Regions from separate parts of the Homo sapiens genome. Here region 2 is linked to region 1. The links come from fine-mapping of genetic effects on gene expression. A gene starts in region 1. The other region holds a variant in brackets. All regions are shown on one strand. Distances are from middle to middle.

Region 1 (4,397 bases):
TTAAATAAGTTCCATTTTACCTGCTGGGCAGTTACATTCTGAAGGTGCTTCTCTTGCGATTCTTATTTTAGCCATATGTTCATAGGATTTCTGTAGGAAAAGAAGAGTTATTAATAATCATCAGTAGCACTGTAGAGGGATGGAGTCTTTAGGGACTCTGGCCATACGCCTGATTTACCGGCATTTCATAACCTGCATAACTAACATTTACATATGTACTTGGACTCTAGTCAAGAAAGTAACCATGCCTAAGTCCTAAAAAAAGAAAATGACCACTGATAGGGTATCAAGATTGCTGGACTTGTATAACATCTTTCTCCATTCTTCTCTACCACCACTCTCTCCCTCAGCTCAAGCATATGCAGTCAATGTAAAAACCTAGCACTAAAATGTTGCAGTATTAGGTAAGCTGTGGCTTACCAATAACAGCCAATATTTTATACATGAAGGTCAACTGCTTTATTTATCATGCTAGGCTGCAACTACTGCCAAATAGGCTCCCGGCTAGGGTAAGGTTCCAGAAAACCCCCTTACTCTAGTCTAAAGGTACCCTTACACATAACATAGATTCCTCTCAACTCTCAATTCCAAGGGCTCTGCATTCATAAATACCCCGGCACTGCATCCTTTACCAAAAATAAAGCTACTTTAAAAAAAAAAAGTTTAAACTTTTAATATGAAAAGATTCAACGTGTGAAATTATTGATTTTAAATTATATATGACATTATTTTACATTTAAGAGTGATTACCTTTTTTATATATTAATAACATCTATGACCCTAACCATCTTACAACATGTAAAAGATTTAACAGATGCTATCTCTGCAAGAAATATTCTCTCCACAATTGGGTTTGACTTAGGACAACTAAAAAGAGATAAAATGCCCTTTCCGAACCCTTTTAGACCTTCCTATGTGTTTAACACGCAAACATTAAGAGAGAGTGAGGGAAGATTAGAGATAGGGATGGGGACATCAAGGGATGTGCACATATAAATATATGCTACAGTGAGCATAGATCCTTGGCCAACACATGCACGCGCGCGCACACACACAGCCACACCAAGTATGGGTACAGTAAGGGTAGCGGCTAGTCATGCACACAGAGTCACGCTTGTACAAGATGTTACCCACGTGCAAAATACCCCAGCCTCTCACACCTGAGCCAGAAGTCGCTCCACTTTCTCTTGCACCATAGTCTTGAGGTGATCCAGGGTATCAGGCAGCAGATGAATGGAAGGGGCCCCTTTGGCGGATTCGAGAGCGGCGATCCTCGCCTGGAGGTCGTTGGTTTTCACACCCAGGTACAGGCAAGACACCACGGCCACCACTGACAGGAGGGCCGCCAGGACGGCACACGGGGGCATGGTCCGGGCACAATGCTGTTCGGCAGGGGTCGGGTCCTCGGATCTGGGCTCCCGGCCCCCTCCTTTCCCTGCGTGCTTCTTCAGCAGCATCGTGGCGGGGTCGGCCGTCTCGGCTTCGCTTCCCACCCTCTACACCTCAAATAATCCTAAAAGGAAAGAAAAAGGTCGATTCCTCCAAAGTTCAGTCCCTGTGGCTGCACAACTAGTTGGTGGAGTCAAGCCCACGAGCGGATACGGACCCCTGCCTTGCTCAGCGTCCAGACCCGCAGGCGTGCACCATCCCCGCTTTCTTCTCTCCTCCCAGCTGGAAGTGAAAAGCACCCTCCGTCCGGGGACTGGGTGGCGGTGGGGTAAAAAGCAAGACGAAACCCACCCAGACAGCTCTTCCGACTCCCAGAGGACCGACACCTCTTTCGAGGGCCCCAACAGTGGCCGCTCAGGGTCCGAGGGCAACGGCCGAGGCGCCACGCGGGGCCGCGGCTCGCCCTGGCCACGGAGGACCGGACCTGTTGCGCCTCTGTGAGTTTGCCTTATTTCTACCTACTCGGTGTCTTTCGGCACGCCGACCTGTTTCCCACCTGCATTCAGTTCAAGGCAAAAAGGCTGTGAGAGCACGCTACAGCGCAGCGCGAAAGGGGCGACTAAGGTGGAGAAGAGAGAGGAAAACGAAATAAACCCAAGGAACCAATGCTACTCGCGAAGCCGAAGTCGCGGCTGCCCGAAGGATCTCCGCAGCCCCGCGTGCGCGATCCTTAAATACCCTTCGCGATGCTCGCGTGAGTGTGTGTGTGAGTGTGTGAGTGCGCGCGCGCTCCGAGCACGACGTCCCTCCCCCGACCCCCTCCCGGCGCCCGGCGTCCGGCCTGCCGCTCCCGCTGCTGCGCGCCCCCCTTCCGAAGGCAAAGCAGGAGCCCGCCTTATTATCATAATGTATTCACCTTGGCCCAGCCCGCGGGCCGGCCCGGGGAACCCCCAAGGGAGGCGGGAAGCTTGGGTGGGAGCGGGGCAGGAGGTCTGTTATTAGCATAATGTATGCAAATAGCTGGAGCGGCCACCGTGATTGGAGAGGAGCCTGGCGACCCCTCCCCCTGCGCGGAGTAACTTCAGCATCTCCGAGGGCCACCTCTCTGGCCTGGGCCGGGGCCGAAGCGGGGTCGGCTGCGCAAGAGGCGGCAACTTTGGCTTATACTGACTCAGCCCAGCGCCCCCTTTTTATCCCACATAAAAATGGAGAAATGGCCTCCGGGAGGAAGATGTGAAGCGGCACGCTCTATCTCTACTGATCTTCACTCAAAAGCAGCCGCAGGAGCTGTTGCTATCTCGCTGTGGTGCAGCGCTTTTCCCTCCTCCCTCACTTTCCCACATGCCCAGAGGCAAAGTGTCTGGCCGACGTCTGAGGTACATTTCCCCACTTCCCTTCTCTTCCCACTGCAGCCCTCAGATTGTCCAACGAGGGGAAGTTTTCCTTCCCCTCCCCCAGTTTCCTTGTCTTGACGGCACTGAGTCTCCTCCCAGCTCTGTATTCCTAGTCTGTACTAGGGTGCTAATGTGTTTTCCTGATTCCCTGTTTTGCGGGATTGGAAAAGGGAGTGTTGAGGTATACACATTTCTCAGGATTTAGGAAAGGAATGAAGAATGAAGTCAGTTTTTCCTTTTACCTGACTCTTAATGCTGTTCTCTCTGGATCAAATTACAAGGTCTCTAATGGGATTTTGGAAAGTTGGTAACAAGTAGCATTTGACATCTAATTGACTTTGGGGAAAACAGAAATCCCACCTCTTATTCCAAAGAGTTCCTTCTTATCTCCCTATAAAAAAAAAAACCATATATTTTTCCTATTCTCCTTAATTAAGCTAACCTGAAGTCGTTGCTTACTATTGTAAACAGTCAACAAAATACTTCACTAAGTTGGTCTTTCACATGTGTAAACGGATATTGCTAGGTGTGAAGCAAGGTAAGGAAATAACAGCATTAGAGGAAGAAAGAGACTAACATTGGAGGAAAACTCAATGAATTTGGCTATAAAGTCAAAACCATAATTCATTTGTATTACACAGTGGTTCTCAAAGGATGGTCCTAGACCAATAACATCAGCATCACCTGAGAACTTGGACATTAAAATTCTAGGTTCCTACCACAGATCTGAATCAGAAACTGCTACTACCACTACTGAAATAATAATTTTAAAAAAAACAGCAATCTGTGTTTTAACAAGCCCTCCAAATGATTTTGATATATACTACTAAAGTTTGAGAACCACTGGTATAATACTTTCCAAAATATTTTCAAATACTTTTTGTATTTGAACCTCATAACCCTGCGATGTGAGGATTTACTGTTCCTCTTTTAAATATAAACAACGTTTTTAAATAAATTTTAAAACAGATAAATTTCAAGTCACATTTAATTGTGATTAAACATGTTTCCAATAACAGGACCCAAATAATGGGTACAAATATTTTAATGTACAAACTCTTTCTGTAACCTCTAGCTGTTCCTTAGTCTCATTTGCAGGCTTTTCCTCTTTCATTTCTCTGAAAGTTGGTGCTCCTTGGGTCTCTGTCTATTCCATCTTCTCTGTATACTCTCTCCAGTAGAGTTCCCATTACACTGATGAGTCATAAATTCATATCAAAAGCCCAAACCTCTCTCCTGAACCTCAGATCCATATAGCCAGTTGCCTCTTTGTCATCTCCGTTTGGATGTCTCACTCTCATTTCCAATGTAACCTGCAGCTTACCTCCAAATTCTGTCTGCTTCCTCTGTTTCCCATCTCAGCCAATGGAGTTGCCATCCATCCAGTCTCCCCAAGCCAAAATACCCAGTTGCCGGCCCTGACTTCTCCCTTGCCCTCCTCTCCTCATCTATTTAGAGTCCTTCAATAATTCTGGTTGTCCTTAGGACAAAGATCTTACATCTTTCAACCCCCACAACAAAGCCCCCTGTCTACCATCTCACTAGCCTCATTGCTCATTCTTCCTCTCAAACTCTCCACATCAGTTTCTCTGAAGTATGGAGACAATGAGAATA
Region 2 (4,397 bases), 580 kb before region 1:
AGGTTAAGGGAAAGGATAAAAAGACTCTGCTAGGTAATCTGAAATACAGACCTTTGCTTATGACCTTGACATCAAGGAAAGTAGGATGTGTTTTGGAAAGGAAGGTTATGAGAAAATCATGAAAATGTAGTTTTGTTAAATAAAAAGTAATTTTGTCTAGTTTAAAGGTTGTTTACAAGGTGTTTTAAATTCGAGGAATAAAGTAAGAATAATAGATAAAACTGAATGAATATAGAAAGTTGGGGAAAGAAATAGAATGGGAAAAATTGTGAGAGGTTATAAAAGATTTATGAAAATCTTATCTTTGTGGTTAAACATGATTGAGATTAGACAGATCTGCTTATAAGGTTTTATTAAAATTATGTTTAATATTAATAATACACTGATTGATAGAAGGGTAGAGTTTGGTTTTCTCTTTTAAACAAGATTTTCATTTGCTATTAATAAGAGATAGTAAAAGATTTTTGTTTGCCTTTTGAGTAAACTTCGTAAAAAGAAAGAGACGAAGAGACAGACTTTGTTAGTCTCATGCTGTCTGTATCAGGTGTTTTGATTGTTTGAAAAATAGTGTCTCCTCTCTATCAAAGAGTAAAATTTTTGCTTTTTGAAATCTTTAAATTATCATTTTGGCTAAATTAGTGACTATTATTTTATAGTGACCTATGATCCTCATGACCTATGATTAAGTGTCTTCAATCTTTCATATTTTGATAACAAAATAAACCTTAGGTATTCAACAAACTTCCCAAATCAAAGTTTCATGTTCTAAATTAAGCCTTTTTTTTTTTTTTACCTTGAACTGGTTTTGGACATTCAAAAAGGGCCCCTGGATATCTAAGACAGACATATTAGGCTTATTTGTTATGTTAAAATCACATAGGAAGCATTGTCAAATAAGAAATGATATTTAACTCTGAGTTACATTTGTATGGATGTGTTATTAATATGTGTTTCAAAATTATATGAGAATCTTAAAAATCTGATATGTCTTGGTATATGTGGTAAATTGCTTTATTCTGATCTTTTTCTAAAAGCTCTTTGGAAATATTAAAGCCTTGTGTCTTCAAGGAGGTTAAGGGAAAGGATAAAAAGACTCTGCTAGATAATCTGAAATACAGACCTTTGCTTATGACCTTGAGATCATACAATTGAACTGGGTAGGAATTTCAATAACACCATTGGGGAAAAACTGGACTCATAAAACTGCTAACTTAATATCAGACAGAATAACAATTAATTACATAGGACTGAACTGATGGAGGACTGAAATAATTTTTTTGTTTAAAACATTACTGATTCTTTTTGTTTTGTTTTCCAGAGTTAATAACACTTTTTTAAAAAGCTATTTATAGTTTTCAGCACTTGAGTAAAGTATACTTTCTTTTTTTTCACTCAAGACTTGTTCTGTCGCCCAGGCAGGAGTGCAGTAGCATGATCTCAGCTCACTGCAGCCTCCACCTCCTGGGTTCAATCAATTCTCCTGCCTCAGCCTCCCAAATAGCTGGGACTATGGGACTACAGGTGTGCGCCACCATGCCTGGATAGTTTTTTTTTTTTTGTATTTTTAGTAGAGATGGGGTTTCACCATGTTGTTCAGGCTGGTCTTGAATTCCTGACATCGTGATCCACCCACCTTGGCCTCCCAAAGTGCTGGGATTACAGGTGTGAGCCACTGCACCCAGCCATGCCTTCCTATAATCTTTTACCAAAACACATTCTACTTTCCTTACACACCTTGCATGTAAAACTGTTTTTCCAGTAGTCTCGAGTACATGTTACACTGCTAACCCTTACCAACTTTTACTTTTGGTAAGTAAGTAATTCTAATTATGTACTAGGTGTGGAGCCTAGGACACCAGACAGAAGTGCAGATAATGTTTGAGTCTTCTCAGCATAGCTAGGGGACATGGCTAACTCTGTGTGTCCTCTGGCCTTACCTAGCTTTAAAGAAGGCGAATTGTACAGTTAAGAGTCATAGTAGCAGTTTATGAAGCATTTAGTAGGCCTAATAACCTTTAAACTATACAACATTTATTTCATAAATTTTTCAGACTTACACAGACCATCTATGACATGCCTGGACTTTCTGACTTGTAGTAAACATCCCTCTTTTTTTAACAACTATTTTACTTTAGGACAATAATTTATCATACAAGGTCTTTTGTTTATATACAAAATCTCTTTTCTCTATAACATTCCTTACCAAAAATACCTCTTTACCTTTATAACCTTTAAGTTAGACAAAAGTCATTTTCCTTCTGTTAGAAAGTTAAGGTTTGTACTGCACGTTGCTGTGTGAGTCCTGTGAAGAGGGAGCAGATAAGGAGGTTATCTGCAACTGAAGAAGTTATTCCCCTTCAAGAAATTGTTTGGGGCCGGGCACGGTGGCTCATGCCTGTAATCCCAGCACTTTGGGAGCCTGAGGCGGGCGGATCACAAGGTCAGGAGATCAAGACCATCCTGGCTAACACAGTGAAACCCCGTCTCTACTAAAAATACAAAAAAAAATTAGCCGGGCGTGGTGGCGGGCGCCTGTAGTCCCAGCTGGAGGCTGAGGCAGGAGAATGGCGTGAACCCAGAAGGCAGAGCTTGCAGTGAGCCGAGATCGCGCCACTGCACTCCAACCTGGGC[G/A]ACAGAGCGAGACTCCGTCTCAAAAAAAAAAAAAAAAAAGAAATTGTTTGGTTAGATTTTTGCTAGAGCTTGTCTGAATAAGTGTGGGCCACTTCTAAACTCCTGAGGTAGGACTGTCCAGGTTGAAGTTATTGGTTAAAGATTTAGGTAACTTTCCTAGGAGAAATAGGGCTATAGGGAAACATGAATTTAGAGGTTGATTAAATATTAAGCAAGCAAGCACCTATCTTGAAAAGTATATTTTTGTCAAAAGCCATGTGAATATTTTCTTCTGGAGGGAGGAGGTGCCATTTGTCCCTACTACCTGACAGGATTTGGAAGAGAGTTGCTCAGATAATAAGATGAGCACAGAGTAGGCAGCTCTTGAAACCTAAAGGGAAATATATAATTTTACTTACTTTATTGTTATAAATAGTTCTAGTTTTGCTTTTACCTTAGCTAGTTTTTATGACAAGGTCAAACTTTTCCAAGGAATTTAATCCTCTTCACTTCATGTCTCTTGGAGCATCTTATACATCTCTTTCCTGTTATTTAAACATTTCATCTAATACTGTCTTCAAAGTGGATTTTTGTATGCACAAACCAGCTAAAGTTTGTGTATGCCTGAGAAAATGTTTATGATGCCTTCATATTTGAATGTTAGTTTGGCTTGGTATAAAATTGTAACTGCATTTCTTTCAAAATTTGAAAATATTATCTCATGTGTCTTGCTTATCATATTGCTGTTGAAAAAACTTGGTGTTACTCGAATTTTAATTTTGGTTGGTGATCTATTTTTCTGTACAGTGTATTTTAGAATTTTCTCTTCTTATTCTAGGAGTGGATTTTTATCTTGTTCCCTATGTTTAGTCCTCTATGAAGCCTTTCATTCTGAGGTCTTTTATTGTTTTCCCCCCTTTATTTTTGAAAATTTATCTCCTTTATTTTTTTAAACATTTTTATCATCATTATTATTATTTTCTGTATTTTTTTTTTCAGACAGAGTCTCGCTCTGTTGCCCAGACTGGAGTGCAGTGGTGTGATCTCAGCTCACTGCAACCTCTGCTTCCGGGGTTCAAACAATTGTCCTGCCTCAGCCTCCCAAGTAATGGGGATTACAGGCTTGTGACACCACACCTGGCTAATTTTTGTATTTTAGTAGAGATGAAGTTTCACCTTATTGGCCAGGCTGGTCTCAAACTCCTGACCTCAGGTGATTCACCCACCTCGGCCCCTCAAAGAGCTGGGATTACAGGTGTGAGCCACCATGCCTGGACTTAAATATTATTTTAATTTCTTTTTAGGACTTCCATTATCTGGCATACATCTTTGTCTTATCATTTATCCTTGTTTATATATTAGTTGTTCTCAAAGCATGGTCTTCAGATTAGCAGCACTGGTACCACTTGTGAGCTTATTAGAAATGAAAACTCATGTCCCTTCCCACACCTAATGAATTAGAATCTCTGGGACTGAGGGTCAAGAAACTGGTTATCAATCTCTCCAGGTGATTCTTATATATAAGTTAAGATTTAAGGCTGGGCGTGGTGGCTCATGCCTGTAATTCCAGCACTTTGGGAGGCCGAGGTGGGCAGATCACGAGGTCAGGAGATCGAGACCATCCTGACTAACACGGTGAAACCCTGTCTCTACTAAAAACACACAAAAAATTAGCTGGGCATGGTGGCAGGTGCCTGTACTCCCAGCTACCCGGGAGGCTGAGGCAGGAGAATGGCGTGAACTTGGGAGGCAGAGCTTGCAGTGAGCTGAGATCACGCCACTGAACT

Which allele goes with the higher level. Alleles are on the strand shown, and positions count from the first base shown. SD is a standard deviation of normalised expression in the study named.
For the expression in prefrontal cortex of the gene that starts at base 2,473 in region 1, allele G in region 2 goes with a higher level than allele A (large effect, 1.1 SD a copy in CommonMind).

The links. PIP is the estimated chance that this variant, and not a neighbour inherited with it, causes the effect. A credible set is the group of variants that fine-mapping cannot tell apart.
Region 2: its variant is the best candidate, but not a certain one, in a credible set for the expression of COL25A1-DT in prefrontal cortex (CommonMind, PIP 0.66).

Annotation. Positions count from the first base shown.
Region 1 is chr4:109,300,563-109,304,959 of GRCh38, forward strand. It overlaps COL25A1-DT (COL25A1 divergent transcript), which reads left to right and starts at 2,473. Exons shown (of 3, transcript NR_160939.1): 1 at 2,473-2,765. It overlaps COL25A1 (collagen type XXV alpha 1 chain), which reads right to left and starts at 2,096. Exons shown (of 38, transcript NM_198721.4): 1 at 1,607-2,096; 2 at 1,161-1,513; 3 at 21-90. The coding sequence starts at 1,457. RefSeq lists an enhancer at 2,168-2,950.
Region 2 is chr4:108,723,631-108,728,027 of GRCh38, forward strand. No RefSeq gene overlaps it. Among named protein-coding and RNA genes, the nearest start is that of ETNPPL, 37 kb to the right of the region's middle. The variant G/A (reference allele first, on the strand shown) is at 2,632.